7 separate regions of the Homo sapiens genome follow, and all the other regions are reported to be linked to region 5. The links are microRNA targets in miRTarBase. Many come from high-throughput screens and were not tested one by one. Region 5 holds a microRNA gene; each other region holds the end of a gene's coding sequence.

Region 1 (3,000 bases), not on the chromosome of region 5:
GATTATTGTGGGAATAAGTGTGAGAGAATCAGGATCTAGGCTAATCCAATGTATTAATGATAAACATTTAATATTTCACATAGTTTCTATCCGTGATGCCTTTAAACGTTATGGAAATCAAATCTAGTAGAAAAATACCCAGTGCCCCATCTCTCCAGGGGTAAGGTTACTTGGAACAGTTTCAAACACTGCAGCTCAAAATTTTGAAGTTTTTTTCCACTGCTGTTTTAGGGTGGGGTCTGGAGCTTATGAACAAGTTGTGATCAAACGCTAGAAGTCAAGTCGGTGAAAACATTTCCTTGTGGATTTAAGATGTGAGTAGTTGATGTATCAAGGCATTTTATTCAAGCACTTAATAGAAAATGAACCTCAACTATCAAGAGGAAAGCCAATGCTGGTTTCTTCTCTGGAAGGACCCACCGCCATCCTGTACCAGCCACCAAAGGGGAACATCTACATGGCAGTCTCCAGGCACTGTGCCACTGTGTGCCTTGGAAGCACCTGGCTTCTGTGGTCACTGCACATCATAATGAAAAGCCTGCTTTTTCTTTCAGAACACCCCAGCGGAGAAAACAGCATTATATACATCGGAGTATCATTTTAGGATTCAAGTGTAAAAATCTGTGATCAAGAGGCTCAATAGATTTGGGCTCTATGGTTTGGTTTTTTTAGTTTGAGAGACAGTACATGAATATAACTTAAACCCTATAGATTTTGTCAAGATAGTTGTAATTCCTGTTCTGGAAATCTTCCCTATTACACTACCTACAGCATTGTATAAAGTGTGGGTGTTCATGCTTTGGGAAAATGTTAGACTACAATTTAAACATGTGATGTGCTTATTCATAATTCTCAGTGTATCAGTCATAAATGAAATAACAAGTGCATTTAAGTCAGAGATACGTGAATGGATGTAATGCCGTTATGCAGTATATATTGTTAATTGTCATTAATATTAGATGAGCTGCAGAACCACCCCCAAGCACTACATAAAAGACTCAAAATAAGTTTAACACTTACTGTGTTGGGCACCCTAACAGAAGAGCTATCTTAACTCATTGAATATTAAGATCTGCTGGTTTCAGGAGTCAAAATGTAGAAAAAGAGGAGAATTGTAATATGGTCAGAAACAGAGAAGCCTTTTCTATGTAAATTCAGACTTATCTGAGGCTAACAGTTTTCCGAAGTGGTGGTGGGTAGCAGCATGACAGCTGCTTGCCATGACTGATGCAGACTACTAGGTTTCCATTTTAGCTCTCTGTAGGTACTGTTTTCTTCCCCACTGTGTCGAAAGTGATTTGTTTTGAAGCAAGAGTAGAATATAACATCTATCAAATATAGCTTTTAAAATAAGAATACCTGGTCTGGATCCAGTTGAGCAGCACAGCAGATAAACCTTAGAGTTTTTCTGTTCTTACATGACGGTTTCCATGTGGAAAGATCTAAACTTTCTTGGAATCACTATTAGTGAAGAAAAATGTAGAATCTGTATAACCAGTAATTCCCCAATTCTTACTTTCAAAGTCATATCCAAGAAAGACAATATGTCAGAATAGAATGACTTTGGTCTAGGTGTTTTCACGTTGGCAAAAATAAGGAGGAAATTATATTATTTTAATATCCAAATTTAAAGGTTTGGAAAATTTTGAATAGTTAATATTAGAACTTATGTTGCTGTTTTTTATATTTCAAGGATTGAGTATTCTGCATTAATCCAATACTATTCCAACAAAGAGATTCTGGAAGTTTTTAAAAAATGATACCCTGTTTTATATTTTGAATGTAGAGAGACTCTGAGAGAGAGAATGTTCTGAGTTATACTTTTTATTTTTTAAGATTTATTTTTAAGAATAAAACATTGACCTGAACATTTTAGCCTAACCAAGGGACTTAAGTGGTAAAGACTTGCATTATGTCTTCATGTGAACTGATCCGTTCATTATATATTATGGGAAAAATCAAAGAAAGTTTTTTATAGAGATATGAAGATATTATTTAGAGAGATATTTATTATGACATTTTTTAAAAACATATTTTTCTATTTTCAAAATATTATTTCTAGGCTATATTTTTATTGGTGCTGTGCAAATGATTTTGCAGTTTTGAAAATGATAAAACTAGATTGTAAGTGGGGTTCAGTGAGGACATTCATCAGACACGTAAGAGGTGCTGCAATCAGGGTGATGCCCATCTTACTCATCCTTGGCTGCCCTTGGTCCGACACCTCTCTATACAAGACTGGTTCTCAGTATTTTAAATGGTACAGAATTCTTTTTAAAAAGTAGAGAGATTTTGAAAAGCATAAAAATCATGCCTTTATAATCTTAGCAGCCATCAGATACACCTTGATTTATGTAGTAGTAAATATAACAAATATTTTAATAAATAGAAACACTGATAAGGAAGAAAAAAGAACTAATGTCTATGTCTTCTGTAGTCAGCAAAAGTCTGGATCCATTTTCTATTTTGTGTTCCATTGGCACACTTTGTGTTCAAATTTCAGTGCAGTCCTTTCAAAATACTCGCTAAGGGTTGCCTAAGTGTCTGCCTTACTTTCTGATTGTCCTTTTCTGAGAGCATGGTTAAGAACATCTTAACCATATAGCTGTTGAAAAAATCTGTTTATTAAATAACAAGTTCACTTCTGTTTATGTTTTGAGTTTAGAAAATTTGACTTGAAAATTTAGATTATTAATAAATTTATTTTTAAATATTAAAGTCAAATTTCAAATCACCCAGTGTTGAAGAATTTGCAGATGTATACAATACTTTTTCTAATTATGTCTTTTCTATCTCCATGCCTGGCTTTTTCTAATTATATCCTAGAGAAAAAGACTAATGGTATTTCAAAGCTGTGTATTTGTGACGAGATAAAGAAGAGTCTTAAACATCTTGTTTGGGAGAATGCACAGGCCAGTCAGGAGACCCACCTCCTCCTGTGCCCTGAGCTGCTGAGACCCGACAGATCATGAAGGCTAGTAAAGGGCAGAGAAGGCCCTG
Region 2 (3,114 bases), not on the chromosome of region 5:
CATGTAAGGAATGTGGGAAAAGCTTTACTCGAAACCCAGCCCTTCTTCGACATCAGAGAATGCACACTGGGGAGAAGCCTTACGAATGTAAGGACTGTGGGAAGGGCTTCATGTGGAACTCAGATCTTTCTCAGCACCAGAGGGTCCACACTGGGGACAAGCCTCATGAATGTACTGACTGTGGGAAAAGCTTCTTTTGCAAGGCACATCTTATTCGACATCAAAGAATCCATACTGGGGAAAGACCCTATAAATGTAATGACTGTGGGAAGGCCTTCAGTCAGAATTCTGTCTTAATTAAGCACCAGAGGCGCCATGCTAGAGACAAACCCTATAACTGTCAGATCTCTCACCTTCTTGAACATTAGAGAGTGCATAATGGTGATACTTGTTTATAATTCTTATGCTGCAGGAACCCTAGAGACAAAATGAGATGACCATTCACAATTTGCTGTAACCCTTAACTTAAATAGCCAGTATTATCTTGCCCTTTTGAACATTTACCATGTACTCTAGCAAGACTGGTCCCTCTGTTCTATGATGTTTTAACAAGGCATCATTTAGTTGGGCAGCTACTCTGTATCAGGTGCTAACCACTTTACATACATTAATTTGCATAACAATCCTATTAAGGTAGGTGCTCTTCTCCCCATTTTACAAATGAGAAATCTGAGTTGAAAGAGGTTATAAAACTCATTCAGGGTTGCTCAGTTAGTAAGTTATAGAGTTGAAATTGGAGCCAGGCCTATCTGACTGCAGAGTTTACTGTTCTTTACTTAATTGTACATATTTATGTCTCTGCCCATTTTTATTTGCTTATTTTCCTGTGCTTTTAGTTTCCCTTCATCACTCAGATCTAGCTCCTTCAACTAAGAAGATCTCTCTTCCTCTTCTACTTGTAATCAGTACCACCCAAGTTAGTATTTAATTATGTGCCATCTTATATTTTTCTAATAGTCTCATGTCTTTTAATCTTAACCCCAGCTAAATGACTCTGAGGACCAACAGTACATTTCTTTTATGTTTTTCAAATCCTGAAACATTAATCTTTGACTAGATATAACATGCTCATGATAAAAAAGAATTGAAATAGTTGAAAAGGGTGTTCAGTGAAAAGTAAATTTCCTTGTCATTCCTATCTCTTGAGTTCTCCCCAGAGGCAATCACTGCTACTGGTTGTGTATCTCTGTAGATACTCTTTGTATACAAGTGTTTATTAGTATTGCTTTTCATAATTCTGTCTCACTGAAAACCTTATTTGATGGAAGCAACATTGCAGTTAAATTGTGAACTCTAAGACCTTTTCTTCAGAAGTTGCTTTCCTTTTGAGGCCACCAAAGTAATTTAGGGAAACAGCAGAGGGTAATCCAGGTCTTTTTTTTTTTTTTTTTTTTTTTAGACAGAGTCTCACTCTGTTGCTCTGGCTGGAGTGCAGTGGTGCTATCTCAGCTCACTGCAAGCTCCACCTCCTGGGTTCATGCCATTCTTCTGCCTCAGCCTCCCAAGTAGCTGGGACTACAGGTGCCCGCCACCATGCCTGGCTAATATTTTTTATTTTTAGTAGAGACGGGGTTTCACCATGTTAGCCAGGCTGGTCTCGATCTCCTGACCTTGTGATCCACCTGTCTCGGCCTCCCAAAGTGCTGGGATTACAGGCCTCAGCTACCACGCCTGGCCAATCCAGGTCTTAAGAGACCTCATTGCCTTTGTTTTATGAGATATCATTCTGGGATTGGGAATATGTAAACTCAACTGGAGATTTTTTTTCATAAAAATTTATATAGTTCCAGCCCTCTCATTGCTTCCTATCCTAAATCCTCTTCCAGTCTGTCCATCCCTCACTACCATGATAGTCTACATTCTGATAAGCTGTGAGGCCACTGCCAAGGGAGGGAGAAATGGTCACTTTCTGGTGGTGGTTAATGCTTTGTTAGATAGCTTCATCCAGTCAATAGTTGAAAAGTTTTCACATAATCCAGTATTGGCATCAGAGCCAGAAATGCCCTCCCTAGGTCCAGGACCAAAGATAAAACAAACACGAGGAACATGTAGCGTCTACACAGGAAAGTAAAGAATTATAGAATTAACTAATTCTACTTGAAATCAGGAGTTTTATAAAACAACATTTTTAGACGTGGTCATCTTTTATTGGTTTCCATCATCTCTTCCCCTTCTCTCTGGGAACAGTTACCCGGGTATTCTTTGGGAAGCTATCCTTTCTCAGCTATGTGGTTTGGCACCACCACCATCTTCATGAGTGGACCCTGTTTGGCTTGTGTCAATCAGTTTATCCCATCCCCTTGGCCACAGAGCCATTGTGATATGAGGAGATACTGGCTCTTCTGGAAAAGAGAGGCTTTTCTTCATCGAGAGCTACCAGAGGAGATATTATCTGTCCTCTGTGTGGCACATAGGAAAATGTGAGACCTAGAATTATAGCAACTTTTTTTTTCTGTTAAAAGGGGAGATTCTCAAGCTTCCAGGTGCTACCATATGGAGCCTAAGGATAAAGCCAATACCAAAGAAAACAGTGACTAAACAGAGAGAAACTAGGTCCTTGGTGACATCTTTTGAGCCACTAGACCAAGCTTTACCTGAAGCAGAGCTACCTCAGAACTTTTCAGCTATGTGAGCCAATAAACATCTGTCAAACGAGTTAGAGTTGAGTTTTCTGTTATTTGCAACTTAGCCACACTAATACTGTTTTGTGTTTGAAATCACTGTTTTCTCATACAGCTCCTCAGTGTCACCTTTTCCTCTTGCTCAGTAGTCTCATAAGCTTCTCAGTTTTATCTCATCTCAGTTGCTTGGAAGTTGAGCATCTAAATAGGTGGCTTTTGCTGGGTGCAGTGGCTTACGCCTGTAATCCCATCACTTTGGGAGGCCAAGGTGGGCAGATCACCTGAGATTGGGAGTTCAAGACCAGCCTGACCAACATAGAGAGACCCCGTCTCTACTAAAAATACAAAATTAGCCAGGTGTGGTGGCACATGCCAGTAATCTCAGCTACTCAGGAGGCTGAGGCAGGAGAATTGCTTGAATCTGGGAGGTGGAGGTTGCAGTGAGCCGAGATTGTGCCATTGCACTCCAGCCTGGGCAACAAGAGTGAAACTC
Region 3 (3,000 bases), not on the chromosome of region 5:
TCCGGGGCACCCAGGACGGGAGCAAGCACTTTGTGAGGTCCCCCAAGGCCCAGGGCAAGAGTGTGGGTGTGGGCCACGTGGCCAGAGGGGCAAGAAACAAGCCCCCTCTGGGACCCGCCATCCCTGCGGTGTCCCCCTCCGCCCACCTGGCTGCCAGCCCGGCCCTCCTCCCCTCCCTAGCCCCCCTCGGGCACAAGAAGCACAAGCACCGAGCCAAGGAGAGCCAGCAGGGCTGCCGGGGCCTGCAGGCACCACTGGCCTCAGGTGGCCCTGTCCTGGGGCGGGAGCACCTGCGGGAGCTGCCCGCCTTGGTGGTGTATGAGAGCCAGGCCGGGCAGCCGGTCCAGAGACATGAGCACCACCACCACCATGAACATCACCACCATTACCACCACTTCTACCAGACATAGAGCCCCTCCCCAGGGCCCCACCCTGCCATATGAAGGACCCCACCCCCGACACCACAAGGCATTATTATTCTATTAATTATTGTTATTATGATGATTATTGTTATTAATAATTATTGTTACTCCACTAATATTTAGCTAGCCTACATGTAGAAGATCTATGGAAACACAGAACTAAACTTTTATTTATATGTTGTGGGGACTGCATAACTAGCCCAGGAAATGACTCTGGTTTTGAGTGGCCTGTAATGGGCAGAGGCTCCCTCGGGGCTCGGGATCTGCAGCATCTATGTGGATCAGCCCACACCCTTCCCAGAGCCAGGGAGCCCTTAGCCTCAACTCTGCCCCACCCCAGCCTCTTCCAGGAGAGCACCCTTACTTGGCCCGGCTTCCAGAGACCCTCGAAATCTCCGAGAAGATAAACAGCTGCTACCTCTTAGTATTATTCTGATTTTATTTTGCCCTTAACTGATTGTTATATGCTACAAGGGATTTCAGTGGACTGCAGAGTGCGAACGTCTTGCTGTTGTGTTTTTATGTCCCAACCTAGAAACCTTAGCTGTCTTTTCTGGAGTTGTCTTTCATGCTTTTCCAGTGGGATCAAGCCCTTTTCCCCAAGAGTCCCATCTCTTCTGCCATGCACGACATGAAAATCCACTTCTCTTCCTTCTCCTTCTTCTCTCTCTACTTTACAGTGATACACACACGTATTTAAGGACTATCCCTGAGACCATCCTTCTCATTTTGGAAACTGCTAGGGAGGGAACCAACCACTTAAACAAGCGTGGTTTTCCAAGATCCAGGCAATTGTGTGCTGTTGGTTGTGGTGGAGGATGTGGCACATATATACGTACCTACACGGTTCTCTAACAGAGCTTTCTGTATCTATAGATAGATGCCATCTGTCCATTTCTATGTATCTTTCTATAAATATACACTCTCAGGTATCTTTTCTGGTGTGTATAAATCAGTGGTTTGCTTCCCTGGATGCTTCTGGAACCCAGATGTGACCCTGCTTGTCTCCTTTTGGGGCTGGACGGCTCTCAGATGCTTTCATCAGAGGTCCATTCTCGGGTTTTGGGGTCTGATGGATTTTGGAGAGAACTGCTGGGGTACAGAAACTTGGTGGGAAAAGGGGACTGTGGCCAGAGTTGGGACCCTGGAGCAGCATCCTCTGCAGAGAAGGATTTTGTCTGGCCAGAGCCTGGAGAAACCTGAAAAAGAACCAGTCAGCTAGCCAGGGTCTCAGAGAAAAGCAGATTACACACTCAAATTGGGTAATTTGAGCAGAGCTTAATAAAGGCAGTATTTACAAAGTGTGGGCTAAGCCTCCCATGAGAGTGCAGAACCCTGGGGCTAGCAGTGTGGGGCGCTATTCCCACCCCTGGGCCTGAGTGGGGAAGGAGTTATCTTTAGCAGACAGAGGATTGCTGGAGGAGTGAGAGGGGCACCTGAAGGAGCTGTGACCTTTGCTTAAAGGATGCAGCCAGTCATGGGGACCCTCCAGGGAAATTAATATCCTGACCTGCTTTCCTGCCCCCCAGCCCCCTCAATCCATTGGCTGAGGCCGCTGGAAGCCACCGGGCCAAGGGAGCTTGTTGATGTGGGTCACACGGGCATGTTCCCAGGTCAGAGAGGAGAGTGGAGAGTGAATCTAGGGAGACTCAAGAGGGAGAAGTGACTCCAGCTACCTTCCTTTCTGCCGTTTTGTCTCCCAGCTGGCATTCTCTTTTCCAGAGCCTCGAGTTTGGGTTTAATGTAGTTAGTAAGGAGTTACTTCCAAAGGTAGTGGGCTTAGTTGTCACCGTATTCTTAATTTTATTAATGACTGATGTGCCTGGGATTGGATTAATACATTAATCCTTAGGACAGCCCCATGAGGCAGCTTGGTGGCAGCTCAGGAAGCATGTCTAAGGCTCAGAAGTTCATAACTCCCTTGAGGCCGCACAGAGGGCGGAGCTGGAATTCTGGTCTCCCACTCGATCCCTTCGCCACTGGTGCAGAGCTTAATCACGGCCATGGGCTGCCCTTGTTTTGGGTTGTGGGTTTCTGTTCAGTGAGAACGCAACTCAATCCAAAGTGAATGAAACCAAGTTGGAAGGCAGGGAGGGAACTGGCTTTGAGATGACAGGGTCCAGGATGTGAATGCAGCTGAGACTGGTTCTTGTCCCTCCCTCTTGTCCCTCGGATTGATAACTTGTACTCAACTACATGCTTTTGTCAGGGAACCCTGGCTGCTGGCCTTCTGGGTCCCCTAACCATAAGAAAAAGGACCTTCCGTTAGTGTAAAGCCCAAGGCAGGATTCTGCTTGGCTGGGCTTCGATCTGGTACCCATAGCTGGACCAATCATGACATCCCAGATGGGGTCACGTGGCCAACCTGCCGCAAGGGGGTGGGGTCTGTACCGGAAGACAGGAGGGGAGGGGTGCAGATCGGACAGGAAGTAATGGCATCCCAGGCCCCGAATTGCTGCAACCCTGGAGGCCAGCCCGGAGTTGAGACTACTGGTTTTAGAGCAGTTCCTCTGCCTCCCTAAGCTCCACACCTGTCAGGATTCTGTTACTTCTTGGTAACTGGGACTTGCCCAACTTT
Region 4 (3,114 bases), not on the chromosome of region 5:
AGCAGTGAAGCACATGTAAGTTTCTCAAGCTTTAGAATATATATATATTAAAAAACAAAACAAAAAAAATGAAGCACAGACATGTTATTTTCCCAGAGCCATCAGTCCAAAGTATTTCACTGTATTATTAGAAGCAACAACTTCTAAACATTCAACTATTCCAAAAATAAGATTTTCCTCCAGTAAGTTATCATTCTCACTTGATAATAAGATAACTAAGATAACTTCCCAAATAAACTCATTCTTCATATCTTGCAAATCTAAAAAGCAACGTGCATCCCCTTTCCTGATGCCTACCCCTGCACTGTGCTGACGCTTCTTTCCTGTCTTGCAGCTGTGTGAGCCACACGCCAGCCCTGCGGCTCTGGATATCAGCCATGAAGTGGGACCCCACAGTCTGTGCTCTTCTCATGGATAAGAGCATTTTCCAGGGCTTCTTGAATCTCTATTTTCAGAACAACCCTAATGCCTTTGACTTTGGGCTGTGCTGAGTCTCACTGTCCACCCCTTCGCTGTCCAGAATTCCCCAGCTTGTTGGGAGTCTACGTCACGGCTTGTCTTGGGAACCAATCCGTCTCTCTTTCTTTTCTTTGAAGTTCCCAATAAAATGAAAACAGGAAATGTATTCTTCTGATAATCATTTGTCTGACTCCTCTAGCCTGTAGCTGCTGCTACTGCTGCTTTTTTTTCCTTTTTTTTTTTGAGGCAAGATCTTGCTTCGTTACTCAGGCTGGAGTGCAGTGGGACAGTCGGCTCACTGCAGCCTTGAACTCCTGGGCTCAGTTGATTCTCCCGCCTCAGCCTCCTGAGAAGCTAGGACTACAGGTATGTGTCACCACGCCCAGCTAATTTTTAAAAAAATGTTGTTGAGACAGGGTCTCACTATGTTGCTCAGGCTGGTCTCCATCTCCTGGCCGCAAGCCATCCACCCAACTTGGTCTCCAAAGTGTTGAGATTACAGGCATGAGCCACCTGGCCTGCCTAGCCTGTAGCTTCTAACTATTTTCTAGAAAGTGCCTGGTGCTAATGTCAGAGCACATTTTGGGAGCCTGTGTGCCTCCTAACTCCTTGGCCTTCAGCCTAGTTTGATCTCCAGATTATTGGTGCAGATGCTGATGCTGAGGTTCAGGGTCAACCTATGACTGATGCTTGTCACTACAGAATGGCACCCTCCAAAGACCTCCCTGGTGAAAGCTTAAGAAGAGGGAGAAGGAAGAAGAAAACACTCCAAACCTAAATACCTTCCATTTGGCAAATGAATGTCGCTGTCCACGTGGGCGAGTATGAGTGTAATTCTCCAAACTTTGGCCATGGGCCTGGAGACACCGAGGGTCTTGTGACTGGAAAGAATTCCAAAGCAGGAAATGAAACACCGGTTTATCACCCAGGACTAACTACGTCAGAATTTCACTGGTGCTGTCAGGGCTCAGGATGTCTCACAAAATGTTCTATAGCCGGCATCCTGCCTTAAAAAAATACACACGCCCCAAACCCAGCCACAAGCAAAGGTCATTCCGTTGGATTTGCGTCACACTCTCTTCCAATTCATCTCAACAAATGCCTCTGGTTGCCTGTTGTGTACCAAGCCCAGGGGCACACTGGGGATAAAGTTGAAAAAGACATTGGCTCTGTCCCTGGGAGCCCCCATCTCTCCACTTATCTTGGTTGAGGTTTTAAACCTAGCGCTTTGGAGCTGCTTGTCTGTTGTAGGGATGCTTGTCTCTGATGTGGCCCCTCTGCCAGCTTCGCCAGGCAGTACCACCCCACTGAAGACAGCAAAGAGCTGAGGATGGCTGGTGCCAACAGGTCCCTTGGGCTGGGAGCATCTACTGCCTGCACTATGGGAGGGGGACCAAGTTTGTCCAATGCTGTTTCATCTCAGTGTCTGAGGATCAGCCTGTGATCATTTCAGCTTTGCTCATGCTGGATCCTTTCCCATCCTCCTAGCTGTGCTGAGACACCAGGCAGCAACAGGAGCGATGTTTTGCCTTGTCTGTGCTCCCTAAGGAGCTGTCTGCCACCTCTGCCTCTGAGACAGCCCAAATCAGCCCTCCTCTCTCCCCACGTCTCAGTCTGGCCCTGCCATCTGCTGGCTCTGGGTATATTTTGACCCATGTAAATAGTTACCAGGTGTTACTCTGTGCCAGCTGGACAGAAACAAGCCTGCTTGGTGAGGTGGCCAGAACTTCCAGAAGAGGCAGCGCATGACAGGGGCAGTCTGCCGCACCATCTGCTCCGGATGTGGAGCCCTGTTGCCATGGCACCCTAGTTAATGCTGAGTGAGGTCTGTGAATCACCGTTTTCCTGGGATCTTTGCTCCAAGAAGAGGGGAATCTTCTCCTGTGGCCTCTCATAGGACTTAGGAGATTGATCAGCCTTTTGCCGGTACAAATCCTGCATGCTAGTGAGTGCTTGTCATAAGACCAAAGTTACCACTGATGCAACAGGAAATGGCATGCCTCTGGCTCACCAAAATGAAGGTGTTCTCTTTTGGGGCTCCGCACACTAATTTAGAAAGCTTGAAGAACCAGGAATTATAGAATGGAGAAAAGCACTCATGGGGGAGGTTTGCAGCCTGGTGGCCTATAGCCCAGTTTGGGATTTGAGTGCCTCTTGGCCAGGCATGCTCCCTGCTGTTTACCAGGGTCCTGGTCACCTGCACATCCTTACACTTCCTCCATCTCGCTTCTTTGTCACTTGTCTGACCCACAGAGAAAACTGAGTTATCAATCTTTGAATAAAACTAGAAGGATGTGGCCTGGAGAAAAGAGGGAAGGAGGTAATTAAATAATGCTCCATGAAGAACTTTAAAAATATGCTTCTTAATTAATACATGTGGAAAGAATACATATGGGTTAAAAATACAATAATGTAAAAGAATAGAAAATCTTCCATTATCTTGTGTCCTAGAGATAACCACTTTTAGTAATTGGTGTCTACCTTTTTTTCCCCTTTTCTTTTAAATAATAGAGATGGGGTTTCGCTATGTTGACCAGGCTGGTCTTGAACTCCTGGCTTCAAGTGATCCTCCCATCTCGGCATCCCAAAGTGCTGGGATTATAGGTCTGAGTCATCATGCCTGGTGGGTGTCTATCTTATAAAAAGCACTAAACT
Region 5 (3,114 bases):
GGCTGGTCTTGAATTCCTAACCTCAGGTGATCTGCCTACCTTAGCCTCCCACAAAGTGCTGAGATTACAGGCATGAGCCCCTGTGCCTGGATGGTAATTATTTTTAAGTGTGATAATGGTATGATTTTTTTTTTAAAAGCGGCCTTAGATTTTAGAGATACATAGTAATTATCAGCTTTCCCTTTTTCCATTGTAACTTACTACTTCCCAGCCCTATGCTTCTGCCACAATGGCTCTTTGTTGTTCCTAGAACACAGTAGGCCTTTCCTGACTACCCTATTTGATATCGAAACTTCTCCACCACCATCTATGCTGTAACTACCCCCACCCACTCCTTGTCCCCTTTTCCTGCCTTATTATTCTCCAGAGCACTTATCAACAATTGGCACACTATCTATTACTTACTTATTTTGTTCACTACCTGCCTCCCCTCACTAGGGCAGGGATTCTTGTCTTTTGGTCACTGGTGTATCCCTGGTGCATAGGGGAGTACCCAACACACAGTAGCTGCTCGATAAATATTTGCTGAATGAATGAGTGGCTCACCAAATGAATCGGCTGCAAATCCTGGGTCTGGGGAGATAACAGAGAAAACTCACAATCTGACTCATATCTACATGAGTGTCTAAGAAGACAGATCTTCACACACCCTCTTGAGCAAACAAGTGTGCATATGGAAAGGCATGGCACAGTGAGTGGATTCTACTTTCTGAACCCAAAATGTGTGTGCATATTACATCTTTGCATATGGTTATGATATAGACACAATTTTCCTCACAAACTGGGTTTGTGAGAATTAGCTAGAAGACTCCCTTTTCATCATGCCCCATGTACAGGAGTCCTGAGAAGGTTCTCTCTCCTCCTCTAGGTGCCGCTAAGACAGAACCAGGTCAAAAGACCCCCCTTCCTTCTCTAGGCTGTGCCTATCCCTGAGTATGAGGGGCTGCACCATGTGCAAGAGAAAGCTAAGAGAAGTCTCCCTCTCCTGCAGGATCCATGTAAGACTGAGATGGGAGAAAGGACATGGCTGAGAGTCATTCTCCTTCCCACCACATGGGTGTGTGTTTTTCTTTTGGTGAAGGAGTGCGTATGTGTATATACACATGCACAAGAGAGCAAGGAAAGCTGAGGCTCGCCATCCTGCAAACCCTGCATGTGGGAGGGGTTTTCAGAAAGCTCACCCTCCACCATGCAAGGGATGTGAGAGAGGGAGCAGGGAAGGGCTTGCTCTCTTGGCACGACATATGGGTATGCTCTAGGAGGCAAGAGGCACTGGCCTGGGGGGTGCAAGTGGGCAGCAAGATAGCCACAGGAGTGCTGATGGGTAAACTAGGAGCAGTGGCCATGGAAGCAGGACAGTCATCCAGATGGGATGGCTGCTAACAGTGTACCCCACATACAGAGCACGTAAGAGAGGGTCTACCTCCCTTTGGTGTACCTGTCCATGTGCTCATGCCTATGCACTGGAGAGGGAAGAGAAGGCTCGCTCTTCTGCAAGCCTTGGGTGTGGGAGGGTAATTAAGATGCCAACGGTCCTACACTCAAGGCATGGAGGAGAGAAAGCAAGTCGGGAGGTCTGCTCTCCTGTATACTGTGTGCATGCGTATCCCAGATGCCTTGGACTTCTATGACTGTGCCCCAGACATGCTGTAATGAGAAGGTGTGCTTGTGTACATTCACATATGTACCTTCAGAAATGTTCACTATCTACAACATATTTGTTTTCCTTCCTTCTTTCTTTTCCTTTATTTTTATTCCTAACACCAGTATAGTATTTACATTTGCAGAGCACTGTTTTAAGTGCTTTTCACACATAGCTCATTTATTCTCATAAAATATCCATGAGGTGATCATTATCCCTATTTTACAGATGAAATAACACACATACGAGAACAGATGGTAAGAAAGCTTAGAATCTGGCATGCAGGTCATTAGAAAGAGGACTCAAAAAAGGAGGCTCAAGCTCTCAGCCACCAACCACTTTGTGTCCACACACACACCACACACACACACACACACACACACACACACACACAGAGAGAGAGAGAGAGAGACAGAGACAGAGACAGAGACAGAGAGACAGACAGACAGACAGACGCAAGAGAACTTGCACTTGTCAGCCCAGGGAAAAGCTGGATTAGTGTGGAAATAATAGAGGAAGTGAGAAGTATGAGAAGTGGCTGTGTGGTCAGATTAGACATGTATTTTGAAAGTAGAGCCAACAAGATTTGACAGCAGTTTGTATTTGGAGAATGGAGGGGAAAAAGTGTCAAAGATGAATCCAAAACCTTTAGCTTATTAAAATTCTCCATATCCTTGGCATATGCAATTGGGAAATGCTGTTTGCTGAGTTGGAGAACACAGAGGGAGGAGTAGGGCTTTTTGAGAGGGGGAGGAAAACCAGGACCTCAGCTTTGGATGTGTTAAAGTTTTGAGATACTTATTAGACATTCGGGGCAGATGTCCAGTACATAGTTGGACATAGGCATCTGGAATTCAGGAGAGAAGTCCAGGCTGGAAATACAAACACAGAAATCATCCACATAAAATGGTACTTAGAGTTGCAAGACAAGATGAGAACAGCTGAGGACTAATGAGAAGTTAAAAAAAAAAAAAGAAGTCTGAAGACTAAGCCCTATATCTCTTTAATACTTAGAATTCAGGAAGAGGAGGAGAAACCATCAAGAGACTGAGAAAGAGAGGCTTGTGAGGTAAGAAGACAACCTCATGAGTGTGGAATCCTGGAAAGCAGGTAGAGTCTCAAGGCAGAGGGAGTGATCAACTGTGTGTTGATCTGTCAAGTAAGATGACAACATTGCCCAGTAAATTGGGAAATGTGAAGGACACTGGGGACCTTGACCAGGGTCATTTAAGTGCTGCAGGTTACAGTTTTACATGGAGGGTTTTCAAGAGTAAATGGGACTAACATTTAAGTCTTTAATCCATCTTGAATTAATTTTTGTATAAGGTGTAAGGAAGGGATCCAAGGACAGAAAACCAAACACCACATGTTCTCACTCATAGGTGGGAATTGAACAATGAGAACACTTGGACACAGGAAGGGGAACATCACACATCGGGGCCTGTCATGGGGTGGGGGGAGGGGGGAGGGAT
Region 6 (3,114 bases), not on the chromosome of region 5:
CTCCCAAGACTTCCCCTCGCATTTCACTGGCTTGCGTGAACTGCAAGCCTTGTCCATTCCTCAACCAATCCCTGGCAAGGGAATGGGAAACAATCTCTTCCCACTCCACGAGGTCACTCTCCTGTGGCTCTTTGCCTGAACACACCAGGGACGTTTGCTCCTGCTGGTGCCTCCACGTGGGAAGGCCCTTCCTGATTCTTCCATCTGGAAGAGTCATCTTTCAAAGCTGCCTCCAAAGGCAGTCTTCTACCTGCAGGCTGGGTCAGGGTCTCCTCTGGGTTCTCACAGCCTTCCAGGACCCCTACTGGATGTGGCCTGTTTCTGTGGCTCAGAAATGGGACCTCTTCCCAGCCCCATGCAACCATAATCAGCACAGCCAGCCATGGTGAGGACTCCCAGCCCGCTGGACCTGTGCCTGGCAGCCACAACCCTGCCCTCACCCCTGCCCAGGGCTGGGCATGACCTCTGGGAAAAGCCTCAGGAGAGGACTGGGACTGAAAGAAAAACACCCATTTGATGGAGAAGCAAACTGAGGCTCAGTGAGGGGTGTGACTTGCCCAAGGTCATGGTCAGGGCTAGTCTTAGCCCCAGGCCTCTCTCTCAGGCCTGGGCCCTGGGCCCTACTCCAGGGCTCCTCAGACTTTGAAGGTCACGTGAATCACTGGGGCACCCTGTTAAAATGCAGACGCTGGTTCAGTAGGTTGGGGTGGGACTGGACTTGCTATTTCCCACATGCTTCCGCTGCCACTAGCCTGCAAGCCACACTGGGGGCGTCACAGTCTGTACTAAGGGAGACCTTGGATTTTCAGCCCCACCCTCAGAAGCCTAGAGGCCGCTGCTTTAGGAAGGGTGGGGTGTGGGTAGGGTGTGAGTGGGGAAGCCACTTCAAGAAACCCCAATCTCCATTCCTGTTCTGCCAGCCATCTAGGACACCAGAGCTGCTGGAACGTTTTATTAAGTTAAGAGGTTCAGGGAGCAGAAGAGAAACACCTTTTGGGTGGCTCTGGCGGTTCTGCACCCAGCACAGCCTCGAAGGAGGCTGTGGGGCCATGGAGGCCAGCTGCTAGCTCCCTCTGTCCTGAGCCCCATGGTACGGGTCCAAATGGGGCAGGAAGTGTTAGTAGGAGGTAGGGCAGGAAGAGGGTGGCAGGCTCCCGCCTCTCCCCTGTAGAGACACCCCGCCATGGCTGCTGCCTGGGCCTCCGCCAGACCTCTGGGCCAGGGCCACCAGCTCAGAAGCCCAAGCAGAGGGTGGCTGGAGACAGAGGGGGACCAGGGTTGGAGGCACACAGCCACCAGGAATTGCTTTTTTTTTTTTTTTTTAAAGTATAAAGTGTTTTGGAAAAAAAGGAAAAAAATCTATATAAAAATCTCTTCACATATAAAATCCTGAAGAAGGTGCAAGGTGAGACCCAGTGCGAGGGGCGCGCTCAGATATGCAGTGTGTGTGTGTGTGTGTGTATCCGTGTGTACATGTGTGCACGTGTGTGCGTATGTGTCTGTGTGTCTGTGTGTGTGTGTGTGTGTGTGTGTGTGTGTGTGGTGGGTGCAAGTGCACGTGTGGCCCACAGAGGGTGGGGAGAAAGCTTGGCTTTTTACTTCCATCCAGGAGGGAAGGAGGGCGGCTGGTCCTCCAGCCTGGAGGGTCTGCAGCTGGGCGGGACCTGAAAGACAAGGTGCGGCAGGGCTGAGGCCTGGGCTGAGGGGCTGCGAGGCCACCCCAAGGCCAAGCAAGGGTGCTGAGTGGGTCCTTCCACCACCTCTCAGCCCCTAAGGTACAGCCAGATCCGCTCTTCCTGGCTCCTTCCCAAGCAGCTCAGCCATAGGGTGGCCTCTCCTGCATGCCATAGGAAGTCCATGAGGACTTATCAGAAAGAGGATGCTCCAGGTAGATGTGGCGTTGAAAAAGCAAAAATAAGAACACTTTGGCCAGGTGCAGCGGCTCACACCTGTAATCTCAGAATTTTGGGAGGCTGAGGCAGGTGTATTGCTTGAGCCCAGGAGTTCGAGACCAGCCTGGGAAATCACGGCGAAACCCCACCTATACAAAAAGTGCAAAAATTATCTGGGCATGGTGGTGAGGGCCTGTGGTCCCAGCTACTCAGAAGGCTGAGGTGGGAGGATCCCTTGAGCCTAGGAGGTTGAGGCTGCAGTGAGCCGTGATTGCACCACTGCACTCCAGCCTGGGTGTCAGAGTAAGACCTTTCTCAAAGCAACCAAAACCAACCAACCAACCAACCAACCAACCAACCAACCAACCAACCAACCACTTTGAGCCCTGCTAAGTCAAGAAGGAGTGTTAAGACTAACTGGGATAGAAGCCCGGCCTCAGCGTGCGATGTGTGTGTGTGAAGCTCAGTGGAGATTCACTGTGGGGGTCAGGGATGTGCACGCTGCATTTGCCTCCAGCCCCAAGAAGGGGGGTGCACTGAGTAGGCTGTGGCTCTGCACTGTGCCGCCCAGCTCTGGAGGAACAGGCTTAAGCTGATGAAGCAGCCTGTGGCCCGGGTCTGATGGGATCTCTGCAACAACCCCGTGTTGCTGGTTTCATTGTCCTTTTTACAGAACGGGAATTGGAGGCCAGAAGAAGGAAGTGGCCTGGCTGGGGTGGTCCAGGGAGTCCCGGGTGTGGGAGAGCCTCAGCCCCTGCCCACCCTGCAGGGCACACGCCTCGGCATCCACCTCTACTCAGCCAGGCTGTTGCGCATCGACTCCTTCTCCTGGAGGGCGGCCATGGCAAGACGCAGGTGCTCCTTCAGCTGCTCGATCTCCCGCTCAGACCGTGTCTTGATGTGGCTCAGCTCCACATAGACGTCCTGGTACTTTCCCGAGGTGAAGCGCTTGTCCTGGGGGGCAGGAGGCAGGTATGAGGGCATGAAGTCTCTCCCTCCAGCCCTGCCAACCGGGCACATGGGCAGCACCAGCAGCCAGACCTCCCCGCAGATACCTCGCTTCATCCCTCCAGGTGGCTCCCCAAGATGGCCGTGGGTTCTGGGCTTACCCCTCCCACCTCCCTGGTACCACCCAGGGACACAGGCGTCATTGTCATCCTCATCCTGTTTCGGGGGAGAAGATTTTGACCAAGACCGCAGGGCAGTGAGTGGCTGGGATGAG
Region 7 (3,114 bases), not on the chromosome of region 5:
GCTCTTCAGTTTCCACACCTTTGCCCCTTTTTCAGCAGGAAGTAGCTAGAAAAGAATGACACCCCTTTTCCTACATGAATGAGGAATGGAAAAAGGCAGTGGGGATTTGTAACAGGGCCCCTTGAGATCTCAGCATCCAAGCATTTTTAGTGACTGAAATAATGAAAATTCTGATCAGGCCCTTGTTTGCTTGAACTTGCTTTTTGCCCAATATTCCTTGTTCCCACAACATAATGATAAACTGCTGATGTACTGTTTCTCTGTCAAGCAGTGGGAGTTAACTTCAGGGTCACAAAAAAAGTATCCAAGAAGAAATAAATGTCTTTAAGGATGTTGTGACAAGCTGCTGACTCCTAGAAGTCTGGTTGTTTCAGGTGTTATCTGAGAGTGAAGAAACACAGACTTTTCCCTTGGTTTCCTGAAACTCCCCCTCTCTTACTCTGCAGCCACATAACTCTCTGCTTCTTTTTCTTAAGGTAAATCGGAGAGATCTTGCCTTGACCAAATTAAATAAACCTTTCTCTATTTCCAAGCACTTGTGTGTCAGTGTTGGCATCAGCTGTACGTTCGGTACAAGAGCCTGAATTTCGGATTCTATGACAAGATTGGGTGGTTAATGCAGATACAATTGAATTATAGAGACAATGATCACATTTTCTGAATCTCAAGGCCAGATAGTTCTGGTGTTTCATGAGTAGGAGACAGAGCTTAAAGCCAGTGATTTAGGTGTTGAGCAATTCAGGAATTTCTAGGACATTTTGGTAAGACAGAATATCTGATTGGTGTTAGCCATGATTTAGGTGTTGAGCAATTCAGGAATTTCTAGGACATTTTGGTAAGACAGAATATCTGATTGGTGTTAGCCATGGAGAATGCTCCCTCTTGTGAAATGTTGAGAAGGGAAGAGAGAGTGAGGGTGGGTGGTATGGAGCCAGGGGCTAGGAATGAGGCAATCTCTCTTTTGTGGAAGTCCTCAGTAGGTTGGTGTGACTGCTGCTCTCCAACCTGGAAAAAGAAGACAGCGGCCATGGGAGACATTTAGGATTTTGTCTCAGGTTCTTCCCAGAGATGATCCAGGAATCCTGCTTCCCGGTGTTCTCCACAAAAGGGAGATGTGTTTGTTGCCTTGCCAGCATAACTTGGTGTTTTAAAATTTTTCTGATACAACCTTTAACTGGAAATCAGCCCCATGGGGGAAATCCTGAGATCCATGACAGAGTGAAGCATAGCCATTATAACCAGGGACTTTGCAAATATACTGACATGAGCTCAATGACCAGCTCTGCCACTTTCCAGCTGTGTGGCCCTGGAAACATTACTGCTCTGTTTTATCCTTGGTTCCTCATCTACCACTGCTTCCTAAACTTGAGTGTGCCCACAAATCACCTAGGAATCTTGTTACAAGGCTGGTCATGAGATTCTGCATTTCTAACAAGTTCTCAGGTGACCTGGAAGCTGCCTGTTCCTGGAGCATGCCTTGAGTAGTAATCTGATTTTTAGGGTTACCCTGAGGTTAATGTGTATTATTTATGAAGAGCTTAGCATGGAGCCTGGCATAATGGTTTGGAGTTATTGTTCCTCGGGCAATGGGAAGCAGCTGACTTGGACTTTGGGGGAGGACTCTGAATCAGAGTGGTAAGTAAGGGACAGTGCCCACATGAATGCCCCCTCTTCAATTCTGCCCTCCATCCCAGAGGAAGTCTGGAAAAATTATGGATTGGGGGGTTTACAATGCAATGGAAAAGGCCTTTTGGTGGGACCAAGGATGCCTCTGTTTTGTTCCCAACCTGTGATCTTAAAGAAGTCCCTCCGCATCTATGGGCCCTCTTGAAATAAATGAAAGAAATGATTCCTGTGTTTTTCTCCTCTCTCTCCAAGTTGTTGTAATTGGTGTTGCTTAAGGCAAACCAAAAGACTCTAGGACCAGGGCTCTTCACTCCTCTCCCCATGTAGCCCTTGGTAGGAAGATGTGGTTGAGCCTTAGTAGATAACAGCTTTCATAAAAATTCACTTTTTTTTTTTTTTTTTGAGACCAAGTCTCACTCTGTCACCAGGCTGGAGTGCAATGGCACGGTCTCGGCTTACTGCAACCTCTGCCTCCTGGGTTCAAGCGATTCTCCTGCCTCAGCCTCCCGAGTAGCTGGAACTATGTAGTGTAGTAGCATGCGCCACCACACCCAGCTAATTCTTGTGTTTTTAGTAGAGACGTGGTTTCACCATGTTGGCCAGGATGGTCTCGATCTCTTGACCTCATGATCCACCTGCCTTACTCAGCCTCTCAAAGTTCTGGGATTACAGGTGTGAGCCACCACGCCCAGCCCACTACTTTTTTTTTTTTTTTTTTTTTTAATTAAAAGTGTCCTTAACATCTTCAGTTTCTCCCCAGCTCCCCTTTCTTCCCTGGTTTCTGTTGTTTCCTTGTTTCTTATTTCACAAGACCAGAAATCCCCTCCTTGTCCAATGTAGGCCCTTCCAATGTTGTACCCGAATTTCCAAATCCACCCTCTCTGTCCTTCAAAACCTTTATCTCCCAGTGGGTTAAGCAGTAATTCATACTAAGGTGTGAATGGTTGCTCTAAATTTCCCCAGTGTATTTGTAAGTACGTGTATGTTTTAAAAAGGAGGTCTTGAGATTGTAAACATGATTGCAACATTTATAGAATTTCAGGCACAGAGATGAAGCACTTGTAGGAGCACATCAGGGAGAATAAATGTGGGGGTAGAGGAATGAACCTCTTGTTCACACACACACACACACACACACGCAAATGCCTTCTATGGCCCTCAGAGCAATCCCGAATCCATGGAGGGCTGTGTTCTTGTTAGAAAATCAGGTGAACTTGCAGAATTTCTCACATTTTTCTTTCCTCAAAAAGTTGTTGCTGTTGCCTCCGCAGCCTCCGTAAGCAAATAACTCACATTCACCAGTTTCAAAGTTGAAAAACCATCGCGTCATGTAGGTTTGACAAGGGCCCTTTTCCATAGGAAAAGCGCATACATTTGGGAGGAGATCCTTGATAGTGTCTGAAGAGAGAAAGTGGTTGAAGGAGACCAAACCCATCACCTTCTCCTTGTTTGCCTCATATGCCAGGGGCTGTGACAGCCCTGGGCACA

What was found. The annotated mature microRNA hsa-miR-532-5p reads CAUGCCUUGAGUGUAGGACCGU and lies in region 5 at 1,530-1,551, opposite strand. An mRNA with a match to its seed (bases 2 to 7 or 8) in the 3' UTR can be bound and repressed. Matches are read on the target gene's strand: a 7mer-m8 pairs with bases 2 to 8, a 7mer-A1 pairs with bases 2 to 7 and ends in A, and an 8mer does both.
Region 1: miRTarBase lists EEIG2 as a target of hsa-miR-532-5p. Seed matches in the 3' UTR shown: 7mer-m8 at 333-339.
Region 2: the mRNA of ZNF662 is a reported target of hsa-miR-532-5p. Seed matches in the 3' UTR shown: 7mer-m8 at 551-557.
Region 3: the mRNA of NKD1 is a reported target of hsa-miR-532-5p. Seed matches in the 3' UTR shown: 7mer-m8 at 466-472.
Region 4: miRTarBase lists GSTO2 as a target of hsa-miR-532-5p. The part of its 3' UTR that is shown has no 7-base or 8-base seed match.
Region 6: miRTarBase lists TRIOBP as a target of hsa-miR-532-5p. The part of its 3' UTR that is shown has no 7-base or 8-base seed match.
Region 7: miRTarBase lists SPINT3 as a target of hsa-miR-532-5p. Seed matches in the 3' UTR shown: 7mer-m8 at 2,769-2,775.

Annotation. Positions count from the first base shown.
Region 1 is chr1:108,634,877-108,637,876 of GRCh38, forward strand. EEIG2 (EEIG family member 2) reads left to right here. Exons shown (of 11, transcript NM_001010883.3): 11 at 232-3,000. The coding sequence ends at 274. Among named protein-coding and RNA genes, the nearest start is that of HENMT1, 25 kb to the right of the region's middle.
Region 2 is chr3:42,914,987-42,918,100 of GRCh38, forward strand. ZNF662 (zinc finger protein 662) reads left to right here. Exons shown (of 5, transcript NM_207404.4): 5 at 1-3,114. The coding sequence ends at 368. Among named protein-coding and RNA genes, the nearest start is that of ZNF662, 10 kb to the left of the region's middle.
Region 3 is chr16:50,633,372-50,636,371 of GRCh38, forward strand. NKD1 (NKD inhibitor of Wnt signaling pathway 1) reads left to right here. Exons shown (of 10, transcript NM_033119.5): 10 at 1-3,000. The coding sequence ends at 410. Among named protein-coding and RNA genes, the nearest start is that of NKD1-AS1, 21 kb to the left of the region's middle.
Region 4 is chr10:104,298,794-104,301,907 of GRCh38, forward strand. It overlaps GSTO2 (glutathione S-transferase omega 2), which reads left to right. Exons shown (of 7, transcript NM_183239.2): 7 at 335-3,114. The coding sequence ends at 491. Among named protein-coding and RNA genes, the nearest start is that of ITPRIP-AS1, 23 kb to the right of the region's middle. RefSeq lists enhancers at 440-1,639, 1,456-1,957, 1,958-2,457.
Region 5 is chrX:50,001,604-50,004,717 of GRCh38, reverse strand. MIR532 (microRNA 532) reads right to left here and starts at 1,570; the gene lies at 1,480-1,570. The region is part of intron 3 of CLCN5 (chloride voltage-gated channel 5); the gene reads right to left. MIR188 (microRNA 188) reads right to left here and starts at 1,215; the gene lies at 1,130-1,215.
Region 6 is chr22:37,772,333-37,775,446 of GRCh38, reverse strand. TRIOBP (TRIO and F-actin binding protein) reads right to left here. Exons shown (of 24, transcript NM_001039141.3): 23 at 2,683-2,846; 24 at 1-1,664. The coding sequence ends at 2,685. Among named protein-coding and RNA genes, the nearest start is that of H1-0, 31 kb to the left of the region's middle.
Region 7 is chr20:45,509,821-45,512,934 of GRCh38, forward strand. SPINT3 (serine peptidase inhibitor, Kunitz type 3) reads right to left here. Exons shown (of 2, transcript NM_006652.2): 2 at 2,641-3,024. The coding sequence ends at 2,831. All of the region lies in intron 1 of LOC107987282 (a long non-coding RNA gene), which reads left to right. Among named protein-coding and RNA genes, the nearest start is that of SPINT3, 4.2 kb to the right of the region's middle.